Homo sapiens: one gene and its partner. The protein of the gene in region 1 interacts with the protein of each later gene in a pairwise test. Each region holds a gene or a part of one and is shown on either strand. Other genes may lie near its edges.

The links. The genes of interacting proteins can lie anywhere in the genome.
Region 2: the proteins of C11orf87 (region 1) and KRT83 interact in binary tests that used the Homo sapiens proteins (3 or more experiments, as listed by UniProt).

What each region holds. Positions count from the first base shown.
Region 1 is NC_000011.10:109,417,972-109,425,201, forward strand, and holds the start of C11orf87 (uncharacterized protein C11orf87 precursor), read left to right. Parts: upstream 1-4,218; 5' UTR 4,219-4,292; intron 4,293-4,466; exon of another isoform or gene 4,467-4,596; intron 4,597-4,807; exon of another isoform or gene 4,808-4,896; coding exon of another isoform or gene 4,897-5,078; intron 5,079-5,403; coding exon of another isoform or gene 5,404-5,662; coding exon 5,663-6,256; 3' UTR 6,257-7,230.
Region 2 is NC_000012.12:52,313,795-52,318,427, forward strand, and holds the end of KRT83 (keratin, type II cuticular Hb3), read right to left. Parts: intron 4,177-4,633; coding exon 4,116-4,176; intron 3,983-4,115; coding exon 3,887-3,982; intron 3,230-3,886; coding exon 3,065-3,229; intron 2,800-3,064; coding exon 2,674-2,799; intron 2,320-2,673; coding exon 2,099-2,319; intron 1,550-2,098; coding exon 1,518-1,549; intron 1,025-1,517; coding exon 837-1,024; 3' UTR 507-836; downstream 1-506.

The DNA.
Region 1 (7,230 bases):
TCCCCATCCTACATCTGTTTCACTACATTTCTGTTCTCTCTTGAGTATGTAGGTTAGGATAAATCTATTTTCTATTGACGATACTCCGAATATTTTAAGAGGCTATGCTACATTCCCCACATCTTTCCATCTCTAAGATTAGTATTCCCTTCTCCTTGAATTGCTTATCTATCATTGTTTTCAGTCCCTTCATCTTTCTAGTCATCTTCCTGTAAAGGACACTAATACTTATCAAATTTTTTTCTGAATTTTGATGTCCAAAACAATATAATGCTTCTATTGCCAGGGATAAAATGTCAATCTTAGTAATTTTCTTTATAATGTAATGGGCTACTATTTATTGAATGCTTGCTATATGCTCAGTGCTTAAAATAGCACTGCAAAAAATGATTCTATTATTCCCATTTTGCAGATGAGAAGACTGAACTAGAATAAAACTAGATAACTAGAACAAAGTCAAGAACTTCACTCGACCTTTATTATTTATTTACTGGGTGGGGCAGTAGTTAATAGTAACATGACAACATATAAGCATACCTCTGTAGGTATGCAGGGGCCCAGACTGGAGGAGATATAAGATTAGGCAAAATGTCAAAATCAGCTAAACATTCTCTGGAAAAGTCCCTGTAAATCTAAGAGGAGCCTGGCATATATCATGCTGCACTGTGATTTAGAATGACCTGCCTTAGTCAAACTAGACTTTGTTCAGTCCAAGGGAATCTGTGGAGATCCTGTAGACTGCTCCTGGTTGGAAGGAAGGACCTGAACCATGGGGATTTCCCATCTTCCCTCCTACACTTCAACCAAGCATCTCTGCTTTTCTCTAGCTTTACATAATTACCCCAATCAGAAGTAGACAGAGGTAAAATAAAAATAAAAATAAGTAAGTGTGTTTGAAAGAGAGAAACAGAAAGGGAAAGAGAGAAAAGCCATTAGTCATGAAAAGTAGTCATAAAAAGAATTCTGACTTTGGAATCAGTTTACCTGTGTTTCAGCCCAATAATATATGTGGTAATATACTTCTCAGTGGGTTACTTAGACATTGTCTTTAAACACTCTGAGCTTTAGTTTTTTCACATTTCTTATAGCAGGTACTCAGATTTTTGTTGAACAAATGAGTAAATGAATAATTTTGTATTTTGGCAAAAATAACCTTACGAGGTTGTAGAGAGGATTAATGCTAATATAGGGTTTACTATAGCCTGGTACATAGTAGGTGTTTTGCAAATAAGGATAATAGCTATTATTATTATTGATTCAATGCTGCTTAGATTTAGGTACAGGTGCCCATGTGGCACTTTTATCTAAGTTAGATCGAGATTCTTCATTAAACTTGAAAGCAAATATTAAATGCTCTTAAATATTTGGAACATGCTTATGTCCAGAGGGGCTTTCCCATTACAAGGGAAGATTATAGGAATCTCAGGAGCTTCTTGGTTCTCTACTCTTGGGAGTGTGGCTTGTGAAGTTTGGTGGCGAAAATAGTGGCAACAATGGTGTTGTCTGGAAGAAGCCTTGCCATTCAGCCAGATGTGCCAAAAATCATGTGGCAACTCAGTGGGATCAATTCCTGCAGTCCAAGAGGTGCCCATATTTGCTGTCATTGCTCTTCCTTGGGTTTAAAACACACTACCCAATGACATCCAAATCTACGTATTTAGTACATTTGTCCTCTGGGTAAGAATAAATTATGAACCTACTGCCTATTCTTGAAAGAGAAAAGACAAAAAAGGGTACTATGCTTTTGATCTGAAAACTAATGTCTTTAATCTACCTAAATCATTGCTAGTTAAATACCATTTTCTGGTGAATCACATTTATCTGCTGTAGAGTATAAGTTCTCCAGATTAAGATCTTGTCTTTTCATAGGGTGTATAAAATAATGCACACAGCTTTAGCACTCCTGGTATAACAGATGGCTATCATTTGTAACAAAAGAATAACATTGGAAGCCTTCTGACATGTCCTAGAAGCTTGGTGTGCAAGAAGAATCCCATTACATACATATTGTAATCCCATTACAACATGTTGTAAAGGTATATTCCCCATAGGGAAAGCCCAATAACTAATTCCTTCAAATCTAGAAAACAGACGACTGAGAGTTAATTTTTTTTTTTTTTTGAGATGGAGCTTCACTCTTGTTGCCCAGGCTGGAGTGCAATGGCACAATCTTGGCACACTGCAACCTCTGTCCCCCAGATTCAAGCCATTCTCCTGTCTCAGCCTCCCGAGTAGCTGGAATTACAGGTGCCTGTCACCATGCCCGGCTTTTATTTATTTATTTATTTATTTATTTATTTATTTATTTATTTATTTTGTTATTTTTAGTAGAGACAGGGTTTCACCATGTTGGCCAGGCTGACCTCTAACTCCTGACCTCAGGTGATCCACCTGCCTCAGCCTCCCAAAGTGCTGACATTACAGGCATGAGCCACCGTGCCTGGCCAAGAGTTAATTCTAATTGCATAAAAATTCTTTGCTTTACAAAATAACATTTTTTAAAAAATTTTTTATTTTTTGCTAAAGAGTCTCTTGAAATAGCCAGATCTCTTTTTGGAGAATCCAAAATTGGATTTGCTTTACAAAATGTTTATTAGACTCAACTTTTCAGGAGCAAAGCGAGTGTGAAAAAATGGGACATTGCCTGTCAGGCATCAATGGTAAAGTGTCACTTAGTCACAGCGTAAAAAATAAATAAATAAATAAAAAGGCTCACCATTCCATCCCCTAAGCCCACCAAAGTCAAATTGTCCAAATGTGGCAGGTGGCTATTGCAGGCATCTGGTGCTCTCATTCCAGTCAGGAAGGTGAGGCTAGCATTGGGGTGGGGGCGGGGGGCAGACATCAGTAACTGTATGACCCTAAACACAGAGTCCGAAGAAGGGACCCCCAGATTACAGACAGCCTTTCCTCCACATATCAGACCCTCTTTCTTTACAAATACAGCAAATACAAGCAGATAACTGGGCATCAGTCATTTCTGATGCATTGCAGGAAAGAGCAACAACATACACTGTATCATTCAATTTATCAAGTAAACTACAGGCACTGTGCTAGACTCAAAGATAGAAAAGAAGACAGGGAGCAAAGAAGAAAACGCACGTTTAGTAAGACACCTGAGTGCCTTCAAAGACCATGCAATGTCTTTAGGTACTGTTCCCAGCTAGCTTCTCCAACAGAAAAATGAGCATACTCCATTTCAAAGCTGGATTCTGTAACCAAATGCACTATTCATATTTTTCCAAGGCTCCTAAACCAATAGTTAACTAGTCTCTTCCAAGATTTAGGGAGGCTGTTGAATTCTTTTCTGGAAGTTCTATGTATTTTGCTAAAAGTTGTGCTCCAAACACTTTACCAAGAATTAGGGTCAATGAAGGGGTACTTTGTGCAAGCTACAAATACTTGGAATTTTCATAAGGCAGTTCATTTCTGCCTTCCTGTGAATAATTTCATATTTCTTCCTTGTAAGACTAGGGTTTGTGTGCTCATGAGTGTCTAGATTGTCAGAATAGAAGGAGTGTTTAATACATTGAGTGGGTCTGGGGCCTGGAGATGAAGATGTGAGGGATGCAAGAAGGAGGATCTTGAATCAGATGGAGCGAAAGATAACTTGGAAACTCCAGTGGAGAAAAATGGCTAATTTGGATTGTTTAATTTGTTCAGGTTTGTGTTTTGGGTTCTGTCACACTTATGTTGAGAAACGTCCCTGCCATCTCTCTAATGCACGCAGTTTATGTTCAGAAACGGGCAGCACAGAGAGGAATTAGCGGTGGGGGAAATTTTCATCACCACCGGTGATGTGTGCACCGATGGTAGATGGCTATCCAGAGTGTAAAAATGTGATTCTGGGACCAAAGGGTCAGCTCTAGAACGAAATCAGACAGCTGGAGAACTGAAGATTCAACTCTTCCTAGGCAAGAGAGTGAGAAAGGTGGGTTGCTTGCAGGGTGGAGGTAGGGGTTGCTCCTCCTAGTTCCTGGGCTGGAGAAGGGCAGGGAACTGGGAAGTGTGTGTCAGAGGCTCGCTATGCTAGGACAAGGTGTTGGGGTACTAGGGTGGGTGGGGGCCTGAGGGGTGGCTTGGAGCCCTGGCGGTGGCTGCCTGACGTCACCGGCCTCTCTGGCAATAGGCTGCGAGCTCAGCTCCCTGAAGCGGCGGCGAAGGCGGCGGCGGCGGCGGCGGCGGCGGCAGCAGCGCGGCTCGGTCTCTGGTCCATTCACTCCACGCTTTCTGCAGCCGCCACTGCAGCCGCGCGGCGGGGGCTCCCTCCTTGCAGCCAGCCGGCGGTCCAGGTAAGAGACAAGGTGTGAGTAAAGGCTTCTGATGGCCGGGTGGCCTGACGGCCAGGTGCGAGTGGGGAGGACAGCTCACGCGGCCTGAGCAGCCACCCCTGGCCATAGCTCCAGCCCCCGCCCCTGCCCCCGGCCCCTGCCCTGGCTTGCTTGCGCGCTACCTCGCTACTCCGCAGTGCAACAGTTTGCAGCTGCCTCTTGGGAGCAGCAAGGAGGCTCTCCTGTGCGCTGCGGGTCTACCGGCTCCAGTATGCCGGAAAAGCCTCGGGGCCTTTGGGCTGGGTCTGGGAAGGACAGAAAGAAGGTCCCGTTCCCCAAACTTTGCAGGCGGGAACCCTCCCCTTTCCATTCCAGCTCCTCTAGAAAGAAGCAGGCTACTGCCAAGTTGGGGGCACAGGGAAATGGGGAGGAGGGGGCCGTTTGTGGGAATGTGTCAGCTGAGAAAGATGCTTCAGCTGCTTTTTTTTTTTTTTTTTTTTTTTTTTGGAGAGGGGAGAATACCAGGGAAGAAGGCTGGAGAAGAGATGGAGCGCGTTCCTGCGCGTCAGCCGCGGTCGCGGACAGAGGCAGAGTGGGATGTGGTGCCAGGGGTATCCCCCTGGGAATGGGACCCAAGGGATCTGACGCTGTCCAGGGAGGGCGAGTCTGGACGGGGAGGGAAAGGAAGGGAGGACTGCGTACCCGGAGCCCGCGCGGCGGCCCGGAGTGGGTGCTGGGAAGGGTAGGATCCAGGCGAAGACATCAACCGAGAGGGCGCAGAAAAGAGGAGAGCCGGCGCTCTGGGAAGTAGGGACTTCAACCAAAGCGGCTGCGTGTCTGTTGCAATTATAAAGTTGTGAAGGGCGGAAGGGAGGCTGCCTTATCTGCTGAGTAATCTGCACCTCCGCGGTGCCGGCGCAGACCCCATCCTGTCGAGTGGCATGAGCAGGCTGCTGGTGGCTCTGGTGCACGGCCACGGGCCGGCAGGCTGGGGTCCGCTGACCGAAAATACAGGCAGCGCCCAGCTCAGGCAGTGTGCCCAGAGGGCCGCTTTGCGGTGGTGGTTGATCTTTCCCGACAGCACTCCCCTGGGCAGCGGCCGAGATTCTAACTAAGCTTTGTGTCTTTGCAGCCTGGTGCCTCTGCAAAGGAAAGGGGAGCGTGGAGACGTGTTCGAGGTGGTATCGGCGAGGATCTCTCGGGCGCCGCTCACTCCTTGGTCGCCTTGCTTGCCAGCAGTTGCTCCCTTAGTCCTTGGCTCGCTCGCACACCCCCTCCCGCTACAGGGAGCAGTTTTGGGTGGCGTGGGCTCCGTCCTCTTCTTGGCTGGTAGGAACGGTGTGCCCAAGAGGGGAAGCCTAGTGGGCCTGGCCCCTCCCAGCCCCGCGCCAATGAGTGCCAGGGCGCCGAAGGAGCTGAGGCTGGCGTTGCCGCCGTGTCTCCTCAACCGGACCTTTGCTTCCCCCAACGCCAGCGGCAGCGGCAACACGGGTGCCCGCGGCCCAGGCGCAGTAGGCAGCGGCACCTGCATCACGCAGGTGGGACAGCAGCTCTTCCAGTCCTTCTCCTCCACGCTGGTGCTGATTGTCCTGGTTACCCTCATCTTCTGCCTCATCGTGCTGTCCCTCTCCACTTTCCACATCCACAAGCGTAGGATGAAGAAGCGGAAGATGCAGAGGGCTCAGGAGGAATATGAGCGGGATCACTGCAGCGGCAGCCGCGGTGGCGGGGGGCTGCCCCGACCTGGCAGGCAGGCCCCAACCCACGCAAAGGAAACCCGGCTGGAGAGGCAGCCCCGGGACTCTCCCTTCTGCGCCCCTTCCAACGCCTCGTCGTTGTCCTCTTCGTCCCCTGGCCTCCCGTGCCAGGGTCCCTGTGCTCCTCCGCCTCCACCGCCAGCCTCCAGTCCCCAAGGAGCACACGCAGCTTCCTCCTGTTTGGACACAGCTGGCGAGGGCCTTTTGCAAACGGTGGTACTGTCCTGATCGTCTAGCCCCTCTCGTTCCCCGTCCTCGTTTCCAGCATCTTTGCCACCCTTGCTTTTTTCCTTCTTCCTTCCTTTTCCATTTTCCTCTGGCCCCTCTTTCCTCTTCCTGGTTTCCTTACCTGCCCTCCCCTTACTCTTGTTTCTCCTCCGCCGAGGCACTGTGCGGTATTTGTAAATATTGGGCGAGGAAAGTCTCGGAAGAAGAAATAACGCTGATAATAATACTTTATTAATATTTATAGTAATTATTATAATACTAATAACACAATCCAAGCGCATGACAAATCACATAATTTCTAACTGTCAATGGAGGATGCATCTTCCCATTCCACCCCGCGCTCCCCTCAATTAGGAGGAGAAACCGCACAAGCTACCAAATATATAAAAGGCATTGATTCCCGGAGCAAAGGGAGGGGAGGGGGCCCGGTAATGTACATAGCTGTCAAGTTAAGATTTAGTTTCCTTCCTTCCCCTCTGACCCCTAAGCTTTCACTTTTCCTTTAGCTTCCCTTTCCTCCCCATTCCCACCCTCAGCCGGGCTCAGGCAATAGTATATTATAAAGAAAATGTCTACATTAAGCACCAGGACTGCAAGAGGCCATAGAGAATAGTCCCCGGAAAGTGTTTATGACAGGTACCCCTCGCCAGTCCGCCCATTTCTCACCCTTTGGTTAACCATTACATTTTCCAGGACAGAGCATTTAATTTACTTTTTAAAATGACCCTCGCTGGCCGAGCATAAGTACGTTAAAATCTTTAAATGAGTTTTTTTTAAAAAGCTAACGCTTTCATTCCCTGCCCCGCCCCCACCCGTACACCTTTGACTTGTGACATTTTCAGGATTTACAAAGGATCTGGGAGCTGTCCAGCCAGGTCTGGTGCTGAAGTCGCCTCACCGTTCTGATTACTTCCTCTAGTTGTGAAGGCAGAGGAGGGGCTGTTTTGGAAAGTGACTATTCTGGCTTTTGGTTG
Region 2 (4,633 bases), on another chromosome or scaffold:
ATGAGGAGGATGTGGCAATGGGGTGGGGTCCAGACTGACACAGGGCAGCCCCCAAGGGTGGCTGCTGGCACTTTTGGTGGTTGTTGCTGTGGTACCTACGTGGAAGGATGGCTGGGGGGCAGAGTGAAGATATGCTAGGAAGAGAAAGTGGGGACCGTGTATGCAAGAAGGGGGCAAAACTCAAACACACACACAAGCACGCATACACGTGCACACATATAAACATGCGCATGCACATGCACTGCCTTCCGGCTGACTTCTGGCCTCCTCGGTCCCCTTCAGAGCCATCCAGACTGACAGGTGTGACAGGTAGAAGGTGCTGTGAGCACAGTCAGCACTGCCTGGCCAGGAGATGACAGAACCATCTGGGGACAAGGCCCTACGGGTGTCCAGGCGGAGAACAGGCCAGAACGACTCTAGTCTTCAGGCCATATCATCAGGCTGGGGTGCTCACCACTTGGTGGGTGTGGGGAACCCCAAGAAAGCAAGACATTGCAGCACACAAAGCAGGTCCCCAAGTTTATTGGAAAAGGGGAGACAAGAGGCCAGAGAGGCAGGGGGAACAGTCTCACAGTGCTTCTTCCAGGGAAGCAAGGCCCTTCTCCCCGGGAGGGGCTGAAGGCTGAGACAGGGGAAGGAATGGGTCTATTCCCCAGCCACAGGCCCCTTTCCAGTGGGATGAAAGGTGGGGAGGAGCCGCTGGTGGGAATGAGCCGATGGTGTATTCTCAGAACACAAGGGGAAAAGCCAGCGATGTGCTGCTGTTTTCAGCTGGTGGTGGGGCAGTGGCACGTCTGGCAGGCAGAAGGGGCTCCCCTGGCTCTCTTTTGGGCCACTTAATGCCTCCCCTGGCCGCAGGAGCCCCCTCCACAGGTGGTGTTCAGCTGGCCACAGGGCTTGCACAAACCAGTGCTCACCACCAGGTTCCCGTTGCAGGGGGCACTGCAGACGCTGCCCGTCACCGGCCGGGAGCCCGACACGCAGAGATCCCCGCACACAACCCCACCCCGGGAGCTGCTGACACCTGTGGGAACAAGGGCAGGGTCAAGAGACCCCTGCTGATGGCCATCCCATCCAGCCACCTTCCTTTGGTCTGTCTGATGTGTCGACCATCCAGGGAAGGATGCAAAGAGCCTCCAGTTCTATTCTGAAGGAGGGAACCCTAGCCTGGGAGCCAGCAGACCGGGGTTCTGGTCCTGGTTCTGCTTTGTGACTTTGGGAGTCCTTTCCTCTGTCTGGGCCTCAGCTTTCTCACCTATATAAGGTGAAGGTTATGAATGACATCTGAGGTCCCTTCTTGCAATGACATCTTATTATTTTTTCCCCTCCCCAACACATTCAGGCTGTGAGGTTCTTCCTGCGAGCTAACCTCAGTCTGTCTTGCTGCATGACCAACCTATCCTCTTTACTGGGGGAATTATTGGAAACACTCCTCCCAAAGTCTCTGCATATATTCATAGTCAAGAAGTCCTTTGTCCCCAGTCTACATTTTCCTTTTCAGGGCTCAAGATACTTACAGACATTCACAGCTTCAACACCTTCACACAGCCTGAGTGGGGAAAAAGTAAGGAAGGGGAAGATAAAAGAAGTCAGAATGAGGTCATCGAATTTCCGCTAGGTGCTGAAATGGGTCATCTCAGGGCTATTTCTGACCTACATTTATTCCCTTGTGCAGCTTAGAAAAAGTTGCCTTTCTGGCAGTTGAAGCAACGTCAGGTCACACTATTTAGCAAGTAGAGTATGGTTGGATTTCAATTCTTATTTGTCTCTCAGCTGTTATTTGCCTTTGTGCAGTGAACAACCTGAACAACCATATCTGTCAGGTCTAGATAGGCTCAACTTTCAGAAGGAGAAGGCCCTCTTGGGAAGACGAGGTCAGGGGTGGAGTTTGGCCAGCAACCCTGCCCTAGAATAGGTGATGTCCAAGAAACCAGGCAGGGTATGGATCTTGGAAGAGTTGAGAATGAGACAACTTGAAGATATGGATCTGGGATCCATAGAGGCAAGAATGTCACCTGGGGACTGAGACTGAGATAGGGAAAAATCAAAGGTGGGCAGGTCTATGCAAGTGGAGTGCTTAGGGCTGGGTTGGACCCACCTCTGCTCCTCGCCCTCCAGCAGGCGCCTGTAGGTGGCGATCTCGATATCCAGGCCTAGCTTGGAGTTCATCACCTCCTGGTACTCCCTGATCAGGCAGGCCATGTCTTGCTTGGCCTTCTGCAGGGCGCCCTCCAGCTCGGCCAGCTTGCAGCGGGCATCACTGAGGGCCGCCTCACCCTGCTGCTCAGACTGGGCCACCGCAGCTTCCAGCTTGGAGTTCTGGGAGGTAGGGGGAATATGGAGAGGATAAAGTGAAGTTTAGTTTCTTGAAATCCCAGCCAGTCTCCAATAGGATCATTCAACTTCTATCTTAAAATATTATCTCTCCAATCAGCTTCCTAACCTTCCTTCCCTCCTCACTTACACTACACACACACACACACACACACACCACACAGATACACACACACACCTTGGCCAAGACAATCAGAAATATTTCAGTAGATTTCTCATCTTACTCTGTCACCCATGAGACTGCACTGGGAAGACTTTTCCAGAATCTAACTCAAATCCCTCTGCCGAGGGCTAACCCCAGTCTCTTCCTACACTGAGGGGTGGGCCGGGCTCTGGTACCTGGCACTTGGCATTCTCCACCTCGGCTGTCAGCCTCTGGATCATGCGGTTCAGCTCGTTGATCTCCTCCTTGGTGCGGCGCAGGGTCTCCCCGTGCCTGATCACTGTGGCCTTCATCTCCTCACACTGCAGGAAGCAGAGATGTTCATGAGGCTCAGGATGAGACATCCCATTCATTCAGGACAGCTCAGATGATTGCACAGATTGTGCAGTGCTCGGCCTGTGCAACCACACGTGGCAGTCCTGCCCTGCCACCCCAACATGAGAGCTATTGGTTTTTCTCTTACCATCCTTAGGGATCAGAATCCCTAGACAAAGAAGCCTTTTCTACTAGATACCTCACATCCCTCCCACTGCCATGTCTAGCAGGCAGGTGTCCTGTGCCGCTCACCTTGCTGCGATACCAGGACTCGGCCTCAGCCCGGCTACGGGTGGCAATGTCATCATACTGTGCCTTGATCTCGGCAACGATGCAGTCCATGTTCAGGTCCCGGCTGTTGTCCAGCTTGACAACCACGGAGGTGTCTGAGATGTGGGATTGGAGAATGCGGATCTCCTGCAGGAGGTGGGGAAAGGAAGGACAACTCACTTATCTGGGCTTCTCCTAATCCCTGGATGCCTATCATCCTTTTGGCTCATCGGGAGTGAACTTCTCATGTTTAGAGAAACAAACCTGATGAAATCACATAACTTTCTGCACAAATAGGAAATCCCTTTAGAGGAAAACACAACCACTTCTCAACTGCTTGCTTTTGGAATTATTCAGGCCCATGTGCAGCCAGCATGGTCCAGATGCTTTCCAGGGGCTCAGACCCTGTATGGGGGGCCTCTTTCCATTCTCCTAGACCAACCCCATGTAGGAAGGCTATTGCTGCCAGAGAAAGCCCTGGGCCAGAGCAATGGGTTCAATTCTGTTTGATGCTGTGTGGGGTCTATGCTGCAGTCCACTGGCTCAGGGGAAGGATGCAGGGCAGGTTCCCAAGGCACAGGTGTCTGGGGTGCTCACTCTCCTGCCCCTTACTAAATTTGTTCCTTTTTGGCTTTCCATCCGTTTGCCTCCCTGTTCCTTCCCTCTCCTTGCTCCCTGCCAACCCTCCAGCCGTGAGCCTGGGTTCATATGTCAGCAGGCCTGGTTCATGCCTGTGGGTGTCTGGGCAGAGGGTCAGGGATCCCATGGGGGGATCTGTGCCCACCATGGTTGAGAGCCCCTCACCTCCTCGTACAGCCGCCTCAGGAAGTCAATCTCCTGGATCAGGGCCTCCACGTTGGCCTCCAGGTCTGACTTGCGGAGGTAGGCGCAGTCCACATCCTGGGTGGGGTAGAAGGGGCTGTGAGGCCGGCTTTCCTCAGAGGGCTCTGAGGACCTGGCTGCCATGTGGCAGGACAAAGAGGATGGGTGGCGGGACTCAGGGCGGGCTCAGGGCCAGCTGGGCTTCACTCACCTTCTTTAGAGCCACAAACTCGTTCTCTGCTGTGGCTCGAAGTGCTACTTCTTCTTCATACCTGAGGTGAGCAGGGAGAACAGGACCTTGTCTGAACAGCTCTTGATCTTGGCCATGAGCATATATGCAAAGGAGTCTCTTTCCTAGACCTCCCCCTGCTTGTCTCCTGCCCCCAAGTGAAATGGGTGGGGCTCTGCAGGAACCAGGCTGCTGGCCTGGGTACTACTGGGATGCACTGGAGAAATGAAGTGCCTACTCCCCTGTTTTTTTTTGTTTTTGTTTTTGAGATGGAGTCTCGCTCTGTCGCCCAGGTTGGAGCACAGTGGCGCGGTCTCGGCTCACTGCAAGCTCCGCCTCCCAGGTTCATGCCATTCTCCCCTCTCAGCCTCCCGAGTAGCTGGGACTACAGGTGCCCACCACCACGCCTGGCTAATTCACTCCCCTGTTTTGGTGGAGGTTGGGAGAGCAGGATCTGGAAGCTGAGTGTGTGAATGTGTGTGGTTGGGGAGTGGGAGGTG